5 separate regions of the Homo sapiens genome follow, and regions 1, 2, 3 and 5 are each linked to region 4. Evidence: fine-mapped expression QTL. A gene starts in region 4. Each other region holds a variant in brackets. All regions are shown on one strand. Distances are from middle to middle. Region 1 overlaps GCNT1 (glucosaminyl (N-acetyl) transferase 1). Region 2 has its middle 89 kb from the start of GCNT1. Region 3 has its middle 51 kb from the start of GCNT1. Region 4 holds the start of GCNT1 (glucosaminyl (N-acetyl) transferase 1). Region 5 has its middle 69 kb from the start of GCNT1.

The links.
Region 1: its variant is fine-mapped to the expression of GCNT1 in whole blood (INTERVAL, PIP above 0.99).
Region 2: its variant is fine-mapped to the expression of GCNT1 in whole blood (INTERVAL, PIP 0.96).
Region 3: its variant is fine-mapped to the expression of GCNT1 in whole blood (INTERVAL, PIP above 0.99).
Region 5: its variant is fine-mapped to the expression of GCNT1 in whole blood (INTERVAL, PIP above 0.99).

Annotation. Positions count from the first base shown.
Region 1 is chr9:76,481,803-76,485,921 of GRCh38, reverse strand. The region is part of intron 2 of GCNT1 (glucosaminyl (N-acetyl) transferase 1); the gene reads right to left. Among named protein-coding and RNA genes, the nearest start is that of GCNT1, 25 kb to the right of the region's middle. The variant T/A (reference allele first, on the strand shown) is at 1,637.
Region 2 is chr9:76,546,305-76,550,423 of GRCh38, reverse strand. It overlaps the pseudogene PPIAP87. Among named protein-coding and RNA genes, the nearest start is that of GCNT1, 89 kb to the right of the region's middle. The variant C/T (reference allele first, on the strand shown) is at 1,711.
Region 3 is chr9:76,507,659-76,511,777 of GRCh38, reverse strand. No RefSeq gene overlaps it. Among named protein-coding and RNA genes, the nearest start is that of GCNT1, 51 kb to the right of the region's middle. RefSeq lists an enhancer at 128-628. The variant G/C (reference allele first, on the strand shown) is at 1,619.
Region 4 is chr9:76,457,195-76,461,313 of GRCh38, reverse strand. It overlaps GCNT1 (glucosaminyl (N-acetyl) transferase 1), which reads right to left and starts at 2,132. Exons shown (of 4, transcript NM_001490.5): 1 at 2,009-2,132; 2 at 1,137-1,254. RefSeq lists silencers at 748-817, 1,808-2,347 and an enhancer at 1,088-1,197.
Region 5 is chr9:76,526,484-76,530,602 of GRCh38, reverse strand. No RefSeq gene overlaps it. Among named protein-coding and RNA genes, the nearest start is that of GCNT1, 69 kb to the right of the region's middle. The variant G/A (reference allele first, on the strand shown) is at 1,793.

The DNA.
Region 1 (4,119 bases), 25 kb before region 4:
ATCTCTACTGAAAATACAAAAATTAACCAGATGTGGTGGCGCACACCTGTAATCCCAGCTACTTGGGAGGCTGAGGCAGGAGAATCACTTGAACCTGGGAGGCGGAGGTTGCAATGAGTGAGACTGAGCCACTGCACTTCAGCCTGGGTGACAGCAGAGTGAGACCTTGTCTCAAAAAAAAAAAAGGAAGAGACAGGATCCAGTAATCAAGGGACCCAATATAAATGAGAGGCAACAGAAATCCTAGGATTACAAAGACAGATCCCAAGATGATGGTTGTGTGGGAGTACTAGGAAGAAACCAGTCCTTAATTAAAGCAAGTAAACAGCTCCAGAAAATATTTGAGAGAAACAGAGAACCCCTGCTGTAAATTAATGGATTTAGAAGAGATTTTGATAACTAAGGTAGAGTTCAGAATTAAATAAGTAAAATGCAGGCCAGGTGCAGGCCAGAATTAAATAAGTAAAATGCAGGCCTCCCAGCACTTTGGGAGGCCGAGGCAAGCTGATCACTTGAGGTCAGGAGTTCAAGACCAGGCTGGCCAACTCGGCAAAACCCTGTCTCTACTAAAAACACAAAAAATTAGCCGGGTGTGGTGGCATGCGCCCATAATCCCAGGTGCTTGGGAGGCTAAGGCAGGATAATCACTTGAACCTGGGAGGTGGAGGTTGAAGTGAGCCGAGATAGCACCACTGCACTCCAGCCTGGGTGACGGAGTGAGACTCCATCTCCAAAAAACATAAAAGTACATATAATAAACAAACAATATGAAAAAATGCCATTGAGTACAAGTGAGTAAAATATGCCAACAAGTATGTACAATAAAAGAAATCATGGTCGGGCGCGGCGGCTCACGCCAGTAATCCCAGCACTTTGGGAGGCCAAGGTGGGCGGATCATGAGGTCTGGAGTTTGAGACAAGCCTGGCCAACATGGTGAAACCCCGTGTTTACTAAAAATACAAAAATTAGCTGGGTGTGGTGGCACGAGTCTGTAGTCCCAGCTACTCTGGAGGCTGAGGCAGGAGAATCACTTGAATCTGGGAGGCGGAGGTTGCAGTGACCCAAAATGGTGCCACTGCACTCCAGCCTGGGTAACAGAGTGAGATTCCATCTCAGAAAAAAAAAAAAAAAAAAGCAATCATGGTATGCTATGCTCAGTTTATACATGGCTATAGTAATATAAACATTGAGTTGTGGTCAAACAAAAAGCATGACAATATACAGAGGGTCTCAAAACTATTTTCATAATAATACTAGGCCATTCTGCACCCTTTTCACTCCCTCTGTGTTATATACGGCGCAGTTTTCCAGGGTCTACATGATGTGTTTGTTTTCAACAGAATAAGTGCAGAAGTATCAGAATTCAGGTATTTTCTATTAAGTCAAACAGTAAAAGAGATTTGCAAAAATACAAAAACACTGTTATTCTTCCAATTTTTCTGAAAAGATTTTCACAAGAAATTACTTATGTTAAAATAAAGGGCTTATCATTGTTATTTTCACAGAAGTAATACTTAAGTTTTTTGCTTTCTCTCTCTTTTTTTTTTTTTTAAGACAGGGTCTCAATCCATCACCCAGTCTGTAGTACAATGTCATTATCTTGGCTCACTGCAGGCTCAAACTCCTGGGGATCCT[T/A]CCACCTTAGCCTCTCAAGTAGCTGCAACCACAGGTGCACCTGGCTGCTTATTTTTGTAGAGATAGGGTCTCACTATGATGCCCAAGCTGGACTTAAACTTGATCTTGAATTCCTGGCCTCAAGCAAGCCTCCTGCCTTGGCCTCCCAAAGTGCTAGGATTACAGGCGTGAGCCACCATGTCCAGCCTCAGTTTTACTTTCTGATAGAATATATACCAATAGATATAACCCACATAAACAAAAGCTCTTTGTGATCCTCAGTGATTTTTTTAAAGTATAAACAGTGCTGAAATAAAAAAGTTTTCAGGCCAGGCATGGTGGCACACACTTACGATCCCAGCTACTTGGAAGGTTGAGGCGGGAAGAACACTTGAGCCCAAGAGTTCCAGATCAGCCTGGAACAACCTGAATCAACATAGCAAGACCCCATCTCATATTTAAAAATACACACACACGACAAAAAGTTTTTCAGAATCATTGACTTTGGGGATGAGAGACAGCCAGGAAATGAGTGCAAGTGTGGTGGAGGGTTTTGGTTGAAAGAGAATTAAACCCTCCTTAATGGTCAGGTGTGGTGGCTTGTGCCTGTTATCGTAGCACTTTGGGAGGCTGAGGTTGGAAGATCACTTGAGCCCAAGAGTTTGAGACTAGCCTAAGTAAAATGGTGAGATACCATCTCTACAAAAACAAGAAAAATTTAAAAATTAGCTGGGTGTGGTGGTGCACGCCTGTAGACCCAGCTACTCAGAAGGCTGAGATGGGAGGATCACTTGAGCCCAGGAGTTCGAGGCTGCGGTGAGCTATGATTGCACCACTGCACTCTAGACTGGGTGATAGAGAAAGACCCTGTCTCTATTAAAACAAAAAACAATAAAAAAAAAACCCCTCCTTAATAGTAGAAAGAACTTAAAGCTGAATAATTTAGAAACCATATAAGCATTATTATTTAGAGATATGAAAATACACACCTAAAGAAATCTGTAAAAAGTTGAAAATGGTTAACTTCAGGGCTATGCAGTAGAGAATGTTAGCTAGTAGTCACATGCAACTACTGAGCACTTGAAATGAGGCTAGTCTCAACAAATACTTTTTTAAAATTTTAATTATTTACATTTTAAAACTTGAAGCAGTATTAAATGTCTTTCCCTTAAACACATTACTGTTTCGGTAGGACTATATTTCACTTTAATGACATCATGTAAGATACTATTATTACATTGTAATACAAATATTAGACACATGTATCATTTCAATATTTCACTTTTTTATACTGTTTACATATTAACATTATAAAATTTTGATATACTAGATTAAAGATAATATACTGTTAATTTGGCCAGATGCAGTGGCTCACACCTATAATCCCAGCACCTTGGGAAGCTGAGGCAGGAGGATCACTTGAGTCCAGGAGTTTGAGACCAGCCTGGGCAACACAGTGAGACTCCCATCTCTACCAAAAAAAAAAAAAAAAAAATTAGCCCGGTGTGGTGGCGCATGCCTGTAGTCTCAGCTACCCAGGAGGCTGAGGTGGGAGGATCACCTGAACCCAGGAGATTGAGGCTGCAATGAGCCATGATCACACCACTGCACTCCAGCCTGGGTAAGAGAGCAAGACCCTGTCTCAAAAGGATAAAAAAAGATTTTACCAGTTCTTTTTTTTTTGAGATGGAGTCTCCCTCTGTTGCCCAGGCTGAAGTGCAGTGGTGCAATCTTGGCTCACTGCAAGCTCTGCCTCCTGGGTTCACGCCATTCTCCTGCCTCAGCCTCCTGAGTAGCTGGGACTACAGGCGCCTGCCACCACGCCCGGCTAATTTTTTTTTGTATTTTTAGTAGAGACAGGGTTTCACCGTGTTAGCCAGGATGGTCTCGATCTCCTGACCTCGTGATCCGCCCGCCTCAGCCTCCCAAAGTGCTGGGATCACAGGCATGGAGCCACCACGCCCAGCCCTGATTCTTTTTTTTTTAATGCTGCTACTAGAAAATTTTATTTCTCACATTATATTTCTAATGGACAATGGAGTTTTAGGGAGTAGGAGATTTGGGGGGCCATTGGGAGAAGCATGCTGTTTTTCGTAAGTACAACTCTTTGTTGGGAGGCAATTCGCCATGGGTGGCTTGCATTTCTGTACATCTTGCAAGTGAGGCACTGTCTTTTTGTTCCAGATAATTTTTTCAAGGCTATTTTTATAGCAAACAGCCTAGAAAGACAGAGATGGTGTTTCCCTCCCTAGCAAAGGGCAAACCTTCTTACTGACAATATAATAAAGACAATGTTACCTGGGGCAAAGCACAGCATGCTTACTGCCCACTATAAAAGATTTGGCTTCTCTAAGCTCAGGGTTTCTTTCCCATAATGCAACCCACTGTTTGTAGTTATCACTTGGCCCTCTTCATACTGCCCTGTGGGAATTAAGGCTCTAGCAACCTAAAAGAAAAATGCTGATCCTCTGCTACTGCTTAATATAGGTCATAAATGGCACTTC
Region 2 (4,119 bases), 89 kb before region 4:
AGCCAGACTCTAGGAGGGCGCTGACCAGGACAAAAGTTAAGTTTGGCTGTGTCGGTCAGATGAAACACAGAGGAGCAGTATATTACTAACAGATTCCAAAGGGAAGAGGGCAGCACGCCTTGCAGGGCCAAAAGAAAGGGGGAAAGCTGTCTGGAACATGCACACTTAACCAGCAGGGGGATAGCAAGAGAGAGAGAAAGAGACCTCTGGGGCAAAGCCTTTATTCTGGTCCAGCATGTTACCCAAGCAGGTTTCCCATGATGAGTTCTAATTGGTGGGTTTATAGCAAGCAGGTACAAGGTCCATGAAGTCACACTGTGACCAAGAGGTGATCACTGTGGCATATCTGGGCAGTCCACCCACGGCGTGGGGGGTCAGTGGGGTAAGTCAAGTAGGTTGCATCTAGCCATCCCATAAAAAGGTGGTCACCAGGAGGCAGTTGTATAAAGCGCGTATCTGGATTGACCTACCTTGAGGAACTGGGAAGAGGTAGAGTTTGGAAGAATTGCAATCTGTGTCAAAGACGTCTAAGCCCTGCTTCTAGTATGAGTGACTCCAACTTATATTGAAAATGAATGCTGAGGCAACATGAAATTAATACAAATTCGGCTTTGCAGACGCCGATGCCTCCCAGAGCCCTCTGCCACCAGCCATAGTCAACCCCATCATGTTCTTCAACATCGCCATCATCAGCGAGCTTTTAAGCAGAATCTCCTTGGAGCTGTTTGCAAAGTTCCAAAGACAGCAGAAACTTTCATGCTCAGAGCACTAGAGAGAAAGGATTTGGTTATAAGGGTTCCTGCTTTCACAGAATTATTCCAGGGTTTATGTGTCAGGCTGGTGACTTCACAAACCATAATGGCACTGGCAGCAAGTCACTCTATGGGGAGAAATTTGATCATGAGAACTTCATTCTGAAGCATACAGGTCCTGGCATCTTGTCCATGGCAAATGTTGGACTCAACACAAATAGCTCTCAGTTTTTCATCTGCACTGCCAAGACTGAGTGGTTGGATGGCAAGCATGTGGTCTTTGGCAAGGTGAAAGAAGGCATGAGTATCATGGAGGCCATGGAGCGCTTTGGGTCCAGGAATGGCAAGACCAGCAAGAAGATCACCATTGCTGACTGTGGACAACTCTAACAAATTTGACTTGTGTTTTATCTTAACCACCAGACCATTCCTTCTGTAGCTCAGGAGAGCACCTTTCCACCCCATTTGCTCATAGTATCCTATAATCTTTGTGTTCTCACTTCAGTTCTTTTGGGTTCCATATTTTCCTTATTTCCTTCCATGCCCAGCTGGATTGCAGACTTAAGTTTATTATTATGAAATAAGAAATAAATAACAACAACAACAACAAATTATAAGAACTTACAGATGGACACTGTGGCTCATGTCTGTAATCCCAGCACTGGGGGAGGCCGAGGGGGGAGGATCATTTGAGGCCAGGAGTTCAAGATTAGCCTGGGCAAAAATAATAAAACTAGCTGGGCATGGTGGCTCATGCCTGTGGTCTTAGCTGCTCAGTAGGCTGAGTTGGGAGGATCACTGAACCCGGGAGAAGTGGAGGCTGCAGTGAACAAAGATCAGGCCACTGCACTCCAGCCTGGGCAACAGAATGAGATACTGTCTCAAAAAGAAAAAAATTCACTACAGAAGATGACTCTATCTTCAGAATTATATCTAAGATCAAAAACATTTTAGGCTA[C/T]GACTTAGAGTAAGAAACAAACTTTGCATGGCAACCTAGCACACACATGCATCTACATAACTTTAGAGAAAATGGAAAAGAAAACTTAATGAAATAATATTCACCTTTGTAATGTGCATTATGCTCTGGTATGGTTCTTCTATTTCATTTTCTAATGATGACTCTGATTCACTGAATTTCATTTCCCAGCCAACTAATGGATCATAAGGCAAAAACACTGGTTTAAACCTGTCATGTCAACACCACTCTTCTTAGCAATTTTTCAGTCTTAAAAGAAAACTAAAAGAGTGAGCTTATGAATTGGAAAAACTCAATATTAACATGTCAATTCTCCCCAAATTGATCTATAGGTTCAACACAGTCTCAAGCAAAATATCAGAAATTTTTTGTATATATGGATAAGCTGATGCTACAAGTTATATGATGGGCAAAGGAAAGAGATTAGAGAAAACAATTTTGCAAAAGAAAAACAGATGATAAATTTATACTTATGACTTCAAGACTTACTGTGATAAGCTGCAGTAATCAAGATAGTTTGATATTGGTGAGACATGAAATCACAAACACAAATCAGTGCAACAGAGTAGAGTCCAGAAGCAGATCCACACAAATCAGCTCTACCCATTTTGACTGAGGGACAAAGGAAATTCAAAGAAAGGATGATCTTTTCAATTGATGGTGCTGAAAAATCAGACATCCATAAGCAAAAACATTGCATTTCTTCCTATGCCTCCTATGTTATAAAAAAAAAAGCTAATTTAAAATGGAGCCCAGATCTAAATGGAAAACTTAGAACTTTTAGAAGAAAACCTTTGTGAGCTTGGGTTAGGAAAGGACTTGTTCAGTTTGACAACCAAAGCACAATCAATGAAAGAAAAAGTGATAAGTTTGACTTCACCAAAATTAAAATCCTGGGCCAGGCACGCCTGGCTCACGCCTGGCTCACGCCTGTAATCTCAGCACTTTGGGAGGCCAAGGCAGGAGGATTGCTTGAGCCCAGGAGTTCGAGATTAGCCTGGGCAACATAGTAAGACCCTGTCTCTATGTTTTTTTTTTTTTTTAATTAAAATCTTTTGCTTCATAAAAGGTAGCTTTAGGCAAATGAAAAGACAATCCACAGGCTATGAAGGATACATGGGCAAAACACATATACAACAAAGAACTCACATCCAGAATATATAAAGAACTTTCAAAACTCAACAGTAAGAAAAGATAAAAGTAAAAACATGGGCAAAACATTTGAACAAGATCTTTATTAAAGAAGGTATATAGATGGCAAATAAGCACATGAAAGGATGCTAAACTCAGTTTGCATCAGGGAAATGCAAATTAAAACCACAGTAATATACCATTACACATCTATTAGAATGGCTGACTTTTAAAAATGATAATATTAAGTGCTGTTGAAGATGCAGAACAATTGTCACTTGTATACAATGCTAGCTCTGTTATAGTGGGTAGCTAGTCAGACATGAGCTGGGCAGGAGAGGGCTCCCCCAACCCCACCAGGAATGTTAGGCAATCATCAGGTGATGGTCAGGTGACTGTTACATTGTTTCTCTAAAATAATAATTGATGCCAGCTAGCGCCAGGGAAAGGTAGTCTCCCAGTAGACAGAAAAAAACTTGCGTGATCAGCAGCTTCCCGATAAGATCTCAGGAGTTGGGCGAGTGGGCTCAAACATGAGCACTAAGCGGCAAAATGGTGGTTTAACTGGTATAAGACCTTCTAGAAGCATTCAACGGGTAAGGGAAGACTACCTCAAGTAAGCATGCATACAACTCCAGTAAATACACTGCACATGTTGTAGCAGGCCACCGTGCATGCAGACAGCCCACCCCAAGAAAGAATCATGCCAACATATAAAACCCCAAGTCAGGCTGGGTGCGGTGGCTCACGCCTGTAATCCCTGCACTTTGGGAGGCCAAGGCAGGCGGATCTCCTCAGGTCAGGAGTTCGAGACCAGCCTGACCAACATGGTAAAACCCTATGTCTACTAAAAAAAATACAAAAATAAGCCGGGCATGGTGGCGGGTGCCTGTAACCCCAGCTGCTCGGGAGACTGAGGCAGGAGAATCACTTGAACCCAGGAGGTGGAGGTTGCAGTGAGCCGAGATGGCACCACTGCACTCCAGCCTAAGCAGCAGAGTGAGACTCCGTCTCAAAAAAAAACAAAAAAAAACCCAAGTCAAAGGTCAAACAGTGCCCTTGATCTCTCAAGTTGCCGGGTTGGCCCTCTTTCAGGTGTACTTTACTTCCTTTAATTTCTCTTGTAAAGCTTTTTAACAAACTTTCACTCCTGCCCTAAAACTTGTCTTGGTCTTCTCTCATTCCTTATGCCTTTTGGGTTGAATTCTTTCTTCTGAGGGGGCAAGAATTGAGGTTGCTGCCGATCCCTAAGGATTTGCT
Region 3 (4,119 bases), 50 kb before region 4:
TGATCTGCCCGCCTTGGCCTCTAAAAGTGCTGGGATTACAGGCGTGAGCCACAGCGCCCAGCCAGCACATCTTGCTTTAAACAAGAAATGCAGGCAAGGCGTGGTGGCTCACGCCTGTAATCCCAGAATTTTGGGAGGCTGAAGCGGGTGGATGGCTTGAGCTCATGAGTTTGAGAGCAGCCTGGGCAGCATGGCGAAACCCCATTTCTATAAAAAAAAAAAAAATACAAAAATTAGCCAAGCATGGTGGCGCATGCCTGTGGTCTGAGCTACTCTAGAGACTGAGGTGGGAGGATTGCTGGAGCCCAGAAAGTCCAGGCTGCAGTGAGCCGTGATCGTGCCACTGCACTCCAGTCTGGGCAATGGAGTGACACCCTGTCTCAAAGAGATGTGCTGCACTCACAGCAGGCCAGGTTCTGGGGAAGAAGGTGGATGGTTAAAATGGTAAAATAGAGATGAATGGATCAGAGAAAAACATTTTTTCAAGCGTTTATTATGGATTCATGCCTTTCTTTGCTCTTTTGTAAATTGGGCCAATTTTTTATAAGTAGTGCCCATTCCCAAGGTTGTTATGGAGTGAAAGGAGGTAATACATGCAAAGTGCTTTGAACATGCAATAAGTAAATGCTCAACAAATGCCAGCTGTTGCCATGATTAGCGCAGTGGGCTTTGAGGAACATACTTAAAGGGGCATTCTCCTTTGAGTGGAGGGGCACGAAAAGCTTTCCTGAAGAGAAAACACATCTTCTTTGCATCAAGTCAATTAAGGGAATTCTAACTGCGCCAGGAAGCGTTTACTAATGAGTCTAATGGCAAAGGAAATAAATTATAAATACCCAATAATGTTTAAGCCAGTGATAGTGGTATCCGTGTTTTGCAGAAATTAAAACAAAACAAAACAAAAAACACCGGTTTCTATATCTTAAAGGTCAATAAACCTTCATATGAAATGCACAAAATTATCTAGTTAAACAAGATCCTCCTCCTGCACCAATACTGCTCATCCAAGTTACTCCCACAGTCATATGTTCGGATGGAGGCTACTGGAGAGTATGAATCTTCTGGAGTCCTCCTGCTGAAGGGGAACATATGTTTCCCACTGGCATGCAGCTCAAGGAAACAGGCCACCCTCACCTAACAAGCAATTAAATCAACATGTATTGGATATCAGAAAATGAAATCCCATAGATACGTTCCAAGGAGCTAGAGGCAAAACTGCTGCCAATCTAATCATCCTCAGCTCTTGTAGTCAGATGGAGAGTGCCAGTGGCCTATAGGATTGGTTATTCAGGCTACTGCTGCAAAAGGTTCTCTTCACTGTGGGTATACAATGGGGCTATCTTACAAGGTTAATCAGAGTATAGGACCTTGACACGGCTAAGCACTAATGGTTACATCTAAAACATGCCTGTCAGTAGGTGAGAGGAGAGAAATCATGGCTCCTTCCTCCCCTAAATAAAGGCTGGGGCTGGGGAGCATAAGACTCCCTAAGGCAAACCATATGTGGAAAAAGCTCCAAATACATATTTGGCAACAATTTTATGGAGCTGGAAGGAGTCATTCTCAAAATATGAAGATGTGACTTCAGGAAATTCTGAATGCTCCTTTCTGTTCAATA[G/C]TTTTCATAAATGAGATCACATTATATGTAGTCTTATTTCTCAATATGGTCTCTCAAGTATCAAGGATATTTTAAAAAACCAAACACCAAAACTGGTAATTTGATACAGAAATTTTCTTTTAATTTGAATCATCTTTATTGAATTATAATTTTTCATATTAGCCATTTCCATTTCTTATTGTACTTCTATGAATTGTTACATCCTTTGTTCATTTTTCTCTTGGAGTCTTCATGTTTAAAAACTATGGGCCGGGCGCGGTGGCTCACGCCTGTAATCCCAGCACTTTGGGAGGCCGAGGCGGGTGGATCATGAGGTCAGGAGATCGAGACCATCCTGGCTAACAAGGTGAAACCCCGTCTCTACTAAAAATACAAAAAATTAGCCGGGCGCGGTGGCGGGCGCCTGTAGTCCCAGCTACTCGGGAGGCTGAGGCAGGAGAATGGCGTGAACCCGGGAGGCGGAGCTTGCAGTGAGCCGAGATTGCGCCACTGCAGTCCGCAGTCCGGCCTGGGCGACAGAGCGAGACTCCGTCTCAAAAAAAAAAAAAAAAAAAACAACTATGTTAGTATGAGGGAGTTGTGGGGAGTGACTATAAAGGGTACAAGGTTTCTTCTTGGGGTGATGAAGAGGTTCTAAAATTGATTATGGGCCAGGCGTGGTGGCTCATGCTTGTAATCCCAGCACTTTGGGAGGCTGAGGTGGGAGAATCGCTTGAGCTCAGGAGTTTGAGACCAGCCTGGGCTACATAGTGAGAACCTGTCTCCATATTTAAAATACAAATAAAAATAAAATGGATTGTGGTAATGGTTATAATAAAAACCACTTAGATATACACTTTAAATGGGTAAACTGTATAAGTGAATTATCTCAATATAACTGGTTTTAAATATTAGCATAAATCATTTCCATATTAAGGTATTAAGCCTCCCTCTTCCAAAATCTGTAGGCAAATGTTCTAATCTCATTTGCCTTTTACTTTCTCATATTCAGAAGATATATATTTTTAAATATATAATCTGCTCCTTAATGAATCTTATTGCTTTTATTTGGAAAATTCAGTCACCCATCCAAAGATAGTCACTAGTATGTTCTTCTAGCTTATTTTCATATTTTTCATCTGGATTTTGGTGTACATTATAAAGCCATAATCTAGTATTCTCCAAAAGTTTACCTTCCTTATGTTCCTAGGATTTTTGGAACATTTTATTTATACTCACATCTATTTCGGGGCTACTACTGCCTTGGTCTAAGGGTTCAAATGTAAACTATTAGTACATTTTCAATATTTTTTAGCTGTGAAATATGGTTTTATATCTAGTATCTTAAGACTTCATGACTTTCCTTTCAAAATATTCCTATTCTTGCACATCTTTCAGATGAAATTTAGGATACTCTCAAGCCATTGAGAACATTAATAGACTTGCATTCAGTTAATTCACAAATAGAAGAAATGTTTAAAATATTTCATTTTAGGGCTGGGAACAGTGGCTCACGCCTGTAATCCCAGCACTTTGGGAGGCCAAGGCGGGCGGATCACCTGAGGTCGGGAGGTTGAGACCAGCCTGACCAACATGGAGAAACCCCGTTTCTACTAAAAATACAAAATTAGCCAGGCATGGTGGCACATGTCTGTAATCCCAGCTACTCCGGAGGCTGAGGCAGGAGAATTGCTTGAACCCAGGAGGCGGAAGTTGTGGTGAGCCGAGATCATGCCATTGCACTTCAGCCCGGGCAACAAGAGTGAAACTCTGTCTCAAAAAAACAAAAAACAAAAAACAAACAAAAAAATCATTTTATCAGCTAGGAGCAGTGTATTTTTCCATCTATACAGGTCTTCTGTTATCTTTGTATAGTTTCTGCACACATGCTCAGTTTGTCTATAAATGTGACAAAGCTTGTTGCCACAACAAATGGTGATATACTACAATTATATCTTAAAGCTACCTTTGTCTATTAACTTTTGGATATCTGGAGGTTTTTGCTAATTTCATATTAATTCTAAGATGAGATTCCCAGGCTTTCTACTTGGACCATTATATCATCTGCAATAATAACAATAGTTTTTTCTTTCCCAATAGTTGTAATTCATTTCTAGTTTGGGTCCTACTGCATTAAAAAAAATTGTATCAATATTCTGATGACAAGCCCTGAAAACATTAAAGCATGTATTAAAAACAATATCTTTCACAAGCAGGCTTATAAAGGATATGTAAAGCTCTCAAGCTTTAGAGAAAAATCTGAAATTCATCAATTTTGCCACTTTCTAGAATGTTTCATCTAATTTAGGGCTAAAGAACACCTCGAAGTGTTTAATAGATCCGGTGTGACAATATCTGGAGAAGGCACTCAATATTGGGGGCATGGGGTCCCTTTTCCCTCAGCTGTGCCCATCACATTCAAACCAACAGCAGGTGATAGCTCCTATTAACCTATGCTACTAACTGGAAAACTGTTCTCTTTCTTCAGTAGACACAGTTGAAGTGTCTAATGTCCTAGAATG
Region 4 (4,119 bases):
GCCCTCTTTGTGTTCTAAAAAGGAAAAAATATGAGCCAATATTTAAAATCAGGCTTTACATTTTTTATTTTTAAGTAAAAGTTCTCAGCTATTCGTGGAAAAAAAAAAAAAAAAAAAAAGCTGCCTACACTGTATGGCTGAATGGGAATTCCTGCATGGATACTCGGTGGAAATGGCCAATATCCACCCAGCCTTAGCAGGTTCCTCTGCAGTCACCTGGGCCCAACCAAGCACTCTTGTGCATTACCTGTTTAGTCCATGTGGATAAAGTGGATTTTGTGATCCCAGTTTTAGGGAAAAACGTTTTTCTTACTGTTAAGCAATTCAATTACAAACGGAAAAGGAGTAACTCCTTAAAAAGTGAGTGGAAGCATTGCTATCATTAATCAAGAATGAACTATAATTAATGAAGGATAGAATCTAGTACAAACTTGGGGCCAAGGCTAAGGAGATCCTTTACAGGGCCAAGTTGAAGGACGGGCAGAGGAGGTGGCAGTGACCGTCAAACCCTCATCATGAAATGGAAAAAATATCAACCTCTCGGCCAATAAAACTTTTTAAAAGTAAATTCATAGTTTGGTATATTGTATTTTAAAATAAAGGAGTTTGCCATTTCTAAGAAATCAGTTTCCCAAAACTACCATTTTAAGGGCCCGAAAAAAATTCCTTTAAGAAAAAGCAGGTATCTACACAGTCTGAGTTTTCCTCCCTGCTAGAACTGAAATCTGTTACGAAAGCCTCCAGCAGGGGGGCCTGCCTGGAATTGCCTAAGCTCCTAGCAGGTAATTTACACTGATCTTTAAAAACTACTAAGCCCTCCTCCTCCCCTCTATAAAACAAACCGGCCTTTCAGAACAGCTCTGGAAGGGGGGCAGAATGCCAGACGAAGAGACAACTTCCAGACCACGTCTCTCACCTCCCACCCATCAAATTCAGCCCACAAAAAGCTGTGGCCGCATTCTCATCTCAAGGCACCACGGCTTTCTTTGAACACCATATATCTTCCCAATTGGCCTCTTGCCCCATTATGTGTAAAAAACCGACTCTCTTTTCTGCAGAAAGAAATAACAAGGCAAAGGGTGTACAGGGCAACGTTTATATGCATCTACAGCATGCCAGGTGCCTACAGAACCTACCTCGGCCTAGGCGGTCCGTGCCCTAGCCGGGATCTGCAGGCGCCCTCATCCACGCTGGGAGACGGGAAGAGGAGAGGGAGGCGTGACAGGCGAGGGTGCCTGTGCTGCGCAGAAAGCGCTGCCAGGAGAAAAGAAGCAGTGAGCAAGGGCTTCTTCCATTTCAAAAACCTAATAACCAAAACTTGGAGGAATCTGCCTGAGATACTTAAAAAAAAGAGGAAAGAGAAACCTAGGAGGGGGTAAAATGCTTTTAAGACGAATCACTTGTTTTCGTAATAGACCCTGCGCGCGAGTTTCCTAGACTGCCGCGAGAAGAAGGAAAGCGAGGGAGCAGGAAAGGAGAGGCTTCGGAGCCCCTAAACTAACGTCTCTTTTCTTATTAGTAATAGTTTGCTCCAGGGTGAGTCATTTATTATCCTAGCGTTGGCCTCTTTATCAGTAAAGTAGGGGTGAAAATGCATCTTAGCCGGGCTGGCGTTAGGATTCAATGAAGTTAAATGAAGTTAAGCCCCTGGCACCCATGGGATGGCAGCGAGTCTGTTCGTTCCCTGCCTATCCACGCCCGCAGCCAACCCCTCCGACATCTAAGCTACACGGACCAGGGGCAAGAGGCCAGAAAGTGACTTTCAGGGGACACGGGGCACCGGCGTCCCAGCCCCACTGAGCGGACGGAAAATGAAGGTGGAAGGAAGAGGCGCCGCTCCATTCCGGTCCCGGGCGCACCCCGGTTCTGCTTCCTCCTCCGCGGGGGAGCCCAGCCCGCCCGGGGCCACGGGGCACTGGCTGAGAGCCGGCTCCCTCCCACCCATCCTTCTCAGCCTTCCCCCACCGCCGGGCGGCCGAGCAGGGGAACACGAGGGAGAGCCGGTTACCTGGAGTGGGCGTCTGACCCCGGAGTCTCAGGAGGATGCCCAGCCGCTCCTGCTCCACCAAGCTCCCGCCCCGCGCCGCGCTCTAGGCGCTCCGGAGCTGCGCCTGCAGCCCTCACACCAGCGTGGCCCGCCCCGGGGCCGCCCCCAGAGGCCCCGCCTTTCTAGGCCCCGCCCACCACGTCCCCGCCTCGCCCACCTGCGCGAGCTCGGGGCTGGGGACTTGCTGCGGACTCGCGGTTCCCGCCTACAGGCGAGGGCGCCCTCTGGGCACTGACGTGGTCTGGGAGTAGCGCTGCGATCCTAGTGCTTCCTCGCTCCTCTTCCTCACTGTGCTCTGATTCTTAAGAGGTGTGTGAGCGGCGTCTTTTTAAACATTTTATGCCTCCCTTCCTCGAAAGCAGGAAACTCGAGAAATGCTGCCTTTTCTGATTTTAAACATGAAAATATGTTACAGAACAACAATAAAATTAAATTCCAAGGTTCTCGATATGTAAAGTTTAGAGATAACCATGTAGGTGTTTTTTTCTCTCCCCTAACGAACCTTGCTTCCTAAATTTAGCATTTAAGAACTCATTACATTCATGTGTATTTCCACATAAAAATTAAGATCAAATTAAACTGTGGAACAATCCACAGTGCTGTGGAAAGTAGGAAAAAACCTTCCCCGCCCTTATAGCACAGATCTTTGTGTCAGTTATAAAAGTTGACACAGTTCTCTTTGTAACAAGGGGAATATTGTGTCTGTGTCTTCTTTCGTTGGATTTTTAGCTCCTAGAAAACAGAACGAGGTCTTATTTGTTTCCATGTTGTTTAAAAAAAATTCTGGCCGGGCGCGGTGGCTCACGCCTGTAATCCCAGCACTTTGGGAGGCCGAGGCGGGCGGATCACCAGGTCAGGAGATCGAGACCATCCTGGCTAACATGGTGAAACCGCGTCTCTACTAAATATACAAAAAATTAGCCAGGCGTGGTGGCGGGCGCCTGTAGTCCCAGCTACTCGGGAGGCTGAGTCAGGAGAATGGCGTGAACCCGGGAGGCGGAGCTTGCAGTGAGCCGAGATCGTGTCACTGCACTCCAGCCTGGGCAACAGAGCGAGACTCCATCTCAAAAAAAAAAAAAAAAAAAAAAAAATCCAACTCAGAGGCCATTAGACTGTGATATGTTTGACACTTGCCTGATTTGTCAACAAAAATTAACATAAGATGATGGTATAGAGGAAGAAAGACTTCCCCTCTACTCTCTGAGGCTTGGATAACTAAGTCTATGAAATAAATTGACTGCAGGTAGATTAACAAGAGAAAAAGTACACAGATTTCGTGTAGGGGGTATCACAGAAAAGAAAAACTAATATTCCCTCTGCCTCCCCCAACAAAAACTGAGATTTTAGGAGCTTGTGTATCCTCTTCATTGGGGAGGGACAATTTAGGGGAGAGGAAATGATTTTGGGAAAAACTCCTGAACTCCTTCAATGGCTAGCTTTGTTTAATATCTCATGAAATTTTTCATGAGCAATTCAAGCATAATTGTTAAGAGCAAGTAGATTAGGTAAATGTAAATGGAATAAAAGTTTATAAACTTTTAAAAATAATTTGTTTTATAAAATTTGTCTACTTAAAAATAGTTTTAAAAATCTTTTTTGGTGACTTGAAATTTCGAACATATTAAATTAAGTAATAGATATTCATTAAATGTCTGAGTCATTTGTAAGTTAAAATACTGACATGTTAATTGCTAAACATAAGTTTAAAGTATAGCCGGGGCTGGGCACAGTGGCTCATGCCTGTAATTCCAGCACTTTGGGAGGCCGAGGTGGGTGGATCACCTGAAGTCAGGAGTTTGAGTCCAGCCTGGCCAACATACCAAAACCCCGTCTCTACTAAAAATACAAAAATTAGCCAGCTGCGGTGGCGTGTGCCTGCAGTCCCAGCTACTCAGGAGGCTGAGGCATGAGAATCGCTTGAACCCGGGAGGTGGAGGTTGCAGTGAGCTGAGATCGTGCCACTGCACTCTGGCCTGCGTGACAAAGCAAGGCTCCATCTCAAAAATAAATAAATTAATTAATTAAAAATAAAATATAGCTGGCTGTTTGCAATGGCTCACGCTTGTAATTCC
Region 5 (4,119 bases), 69 kb before region 4:
CCTAGCTGAGTGGGCCCCCTCTACAGACTACAGGATCTCAGCCCACCTTTTAAAGCTTCCCCAGCCATAACTAGAGACCCCTTCCAAGTGCTCAGTACCAAGGCCAATCAGATTTTTTTTTTTTTTTTTTGAGATGGGAGTCTCACTCTGTCACCCAGGCTGGAGTGCAGTAGGTCCATCTCGGCTCACTGCAAGCTCCACCTCCTGGGATCAAGAGATCCTCCTGCCTCAGTCCCCCTAGTAGCTGGGACCACAGGCACACGCCGCCCTGCTCAGCTAATTCTTGTTTTTTTGTTGCTGTTGTTTGTTTTTTTGAGACGGAGTCTTGCTCTGTTGCCAGGCTGGAGTGCAGTGGCGCAATCTTGGCTCACTGCAGCCTCTGCCTCCCAGGTTCAAGTGATTTCCCTGCCTCAGCCTCCCGAGTAACTGGGACTACAGGTGCGTGCCACCACGACCGGCTGATTTTTTTTTTTTAATTGTATTTTAGTAGAGATGGGGTTTCACCATGTTGGTTAGACTGGTCTCGAACTCCTGATCTCAGGTGATCCGCCCACATTGGACTCCCAAACTGCTGGGATTACAGGCGTTAGCCACCGCGCCCAGCCCCAGTCAGATTTTTCTGTGCTGCTCCTTTCCACTGCCAAGAAGCCCTGTTAGGAGATGCCTCGTTAGTATTACTTTAGCTGGTGTCTACTTCAGCCTTTTTATCTAGGTGCTGTTTCCAAACTTTCAGTTCCTCATGGTGCCCACACAGCACTGGAGAACCTTCCATCCCAACCCAGTGTTAAAAGCTGTGCTGCAGGCACCCAGGAAGGGGGAAGCTTCTCCGTCTATAAATCAGGGTAATATGTTTCACTGAAGTCCTGAAACATCTGTGCTTGTACCTGGAGCCTCCCAAAGTCCTTCATGTAAATAGTAACTCCAGTGAATTACTGGTCTCTGAGCCTGGGCTGAGGAACAGACAACATCCTATCTTCCACTCTCCCATTCAATCCTGTCTCTTGTCCCACGGCATCCAAACACTTTTTCCTCCAATGTTCCGTTCTTCCAGGAAAATGTACACATACCACTTTGGTGCTGCCCTACACAAAGCAGATACTTGTTTTTTATTATACACACATGTATAAAGCCAAGTATTTCAAAAACAAGTATCAATTTTCAATTTTTTTTTTAAATATAGAGACAGGGTGTCACTGTGTTGCCCAGGTTGGTCTCCAACTCCTGCGCTCAAGCGATCCTGCCATCTTGGCTTCCCAAAGTATTGGGATTACAGATGTGAGCCATCCCACCTGGCTAATTTTCAAATATTTCAAAAGCAGTTAACATCGATATATAGTATATCTGAAACAAAGCATCATCAATATTGTCAATGCAGTATGTAATTAATATGGCCTCTTTTTACCATTTAAGTTCTGGTAAACAATTTTGATCCATCATATCTAACATAAAATGTGCAAATGATAGTTCTAGAACTATAGTGAGGAGATAACGAAAGGATATTATGTTGGATGGTAAAGCTCAAGTGGTTTTGAGAGGTGACAACGTGCTAGCAGCCCTTGCTCACTCCCGGTGCCTCCTTGGCCTCAGCATCTGCTCTGGCCACACTCCAGGAGCCCTTCAGCCCGCAGCTGTGCTGTGGGGGCCCCTCTCTGGGGCTGGCCGAGGCGGGAGCCGGCTCCCTCTGCTCACAGGGAGGTGTGGAGGCAGAGGCGAGGGCGGCAGCTGGGGCTGTGGCGCTAGTGGGCCAGCACGGGTTCCAGGTGGGCGCGGGCTGGGAGCGGGTCCCACACTC[G/A]GCGCCTGCTGGGCTTGATCCAGGTACGAGCTCCCTCTGGGTTGCCGGAATGCCCGGGGTAGGTGCCCAAAAGTCCTGGCGGCCAGTGCCATTGAGAGGTGAAGCCAGCTGGGCTTTTGGGTTGGGTGGAGACCTGGAGAACTTTTCCCTCTGGCTAAAGGATTGTAAACGCACCAATCAGCACTCTGTGTCTAACTAAAGGTTTGTAAACACACCAATCAGCACTCTGTCAAGACAGACCAATCAACTCTCTGTAAAACGGACCAATCAGCTCTCTGTAAAATGGACCAATCAGCTCTCTGTAAAATGGACCAATCAATAGGATGTGGGTGGGGCCAGATAAGGGAATAAAAGCCACGCCACCTGAGGCAGCAGTGGCTACTTGGTTAACTGTGTCCCCTTCTACTCTGCCAAGGCTTTGTTCTTTGCCTCTTAGAAGTAAATGTTGTTGCTGCTCACCCTTTGGGTCCACGCTGCCTTTATGAGCTGTAACAATGAGCTGTAACACTCAGTGCGAAGGTCTGCAGCTTCACTCCTGAAGCCAGCCAGGGAGACCATGAACCCACGGGGAGGGATGAACAATTCCAGATGGGAGGAATGAACAATTCCAGATGGGAGGAATGAACAATTCCAGATGGGAGGAATGAACAATTCCAGATGGGAGGAACGAACAACTCTGGACGTGCCACCTTTATGAACTGTAACACTCACAGCAAAGGTCTGCAGTTTCACTCCTGAGGCCAGTGAGACCACGAACCCACTGGAAGGAACGAACAACTCCAGATGCGCCGCCCACTCACTGCGAAGGTCTGCAGCTTCACTCCTGAAGTCAGCAAGACCAGCAACCCCCCAGAAGGAAGAAACTCTGGACACATCTGAACATCAGAAGGAACAAACTCGGGACACAACACTTACCGCGAGGGTCCACGGCTCCGTTCTTGAGGTCAGCGAGACCAACAACCCACCAATTCTGGACACATTTTTGCTCCAGGCACCTTCAGAGAAATGGTCAAGAAAGCAGCGTAAAGATCAACTGGAAATGAAAATTTCTGGATATGCTTTTACTTATGAAGAATATAATGGGGGGCCCAGTATAGTGGCTCATGCTTGTAATCCCAGCACTTAGGGAGGCAAAAGTGGGAGAATCACTTGAGCCCAGGAGTTACCTGGGCAGCTTAGCGAGACCTCATGTCTACGAAAATAAAAATTAAAAACTTAGCCACATGTGGTGGTCCCAGGTACTTGGGAGGCTGAGGTAGGAGGATCGCTTGAGCCTGGGAGGTCGAGGCTGTAGTGAGCTATGATTCCCACCACTACACTTAAGCCTGGGTGACAGTGAAATCCCCTCTCTCGAAAAGAATATAACAGCTATCATCACAGCCTGCGAAGTCAGTCACTTTGCCCTGAGGCATGTTCTGTGTTCTGAGGCAAGGATAGGAGGCTGACCCCTCAACCACCTACTTTTCTATTCAGCCACTGAAGCCTTCTGTGGCCTTCCCTGAGACCTGTGAAACAGTTGGGAGACCATTAGTACAGCAGTTCTTAAGCAGGCCAATTTTTTTCCATTTGGAGGCATTTCAAAATATCTAATGATCTTTTAAAAATTTTATTTAAACTGTTGTCTTTTAGTGGGCAAGGTCAAAGAATGCTAAAAGTCTTGCAAGGTAGGGATAGTTGGGCAAAAGAAAGATTTTCCTCTTACCCAAAAATATCAATAACACCACTATTGTGAGGTATCTGTGTAAGAACTGGGGAATTTGATTGAAGGATTTTTTTTTTTTTTTTTTTTTGAGACGGAGCCTTGCTCTGTCACCCAGGTTGGAGTGCACTGGTACGCTCTTGGCTCACTGCAACCTTTGCCTCCCAGGTTCAAGCGATTCTCTTGCCTCAGCCTCCGGAGTAGCTGGGATTACATGCACCTGCCACCACACGTAGCTAATTTCTGTATTTTTAGTAGAGATGGGGTTTTGCTATGATGGCCAGGCTGGTCTCAAAACTCCTGACTTCAGGTGATCCACCTGCCTTGGATCCCAGAGTGCTGGGATTATAGGCATGAGCCCCCGCACCCAGCCTAATTGAAGGAATTTCTTTCTTGCTATTGTGTTTAACTCCTGTATATGTGTTACAGGTATGGAAGGATGATATGTGATATTAGCTGATATGATTTCCTACATTCACTTTTTTGTCCCACGAAAAGGACAGAGATGCCCTCCTTCCAGGTTCCTCATGGCTCAGAAGTAGCATGAGAGAAGATTATATTGGTCTTGAGTGGTGCATGAAAGAGTCAGAAGACCTCACCAGGGATCCTAGACAAGGATAAAAGGATG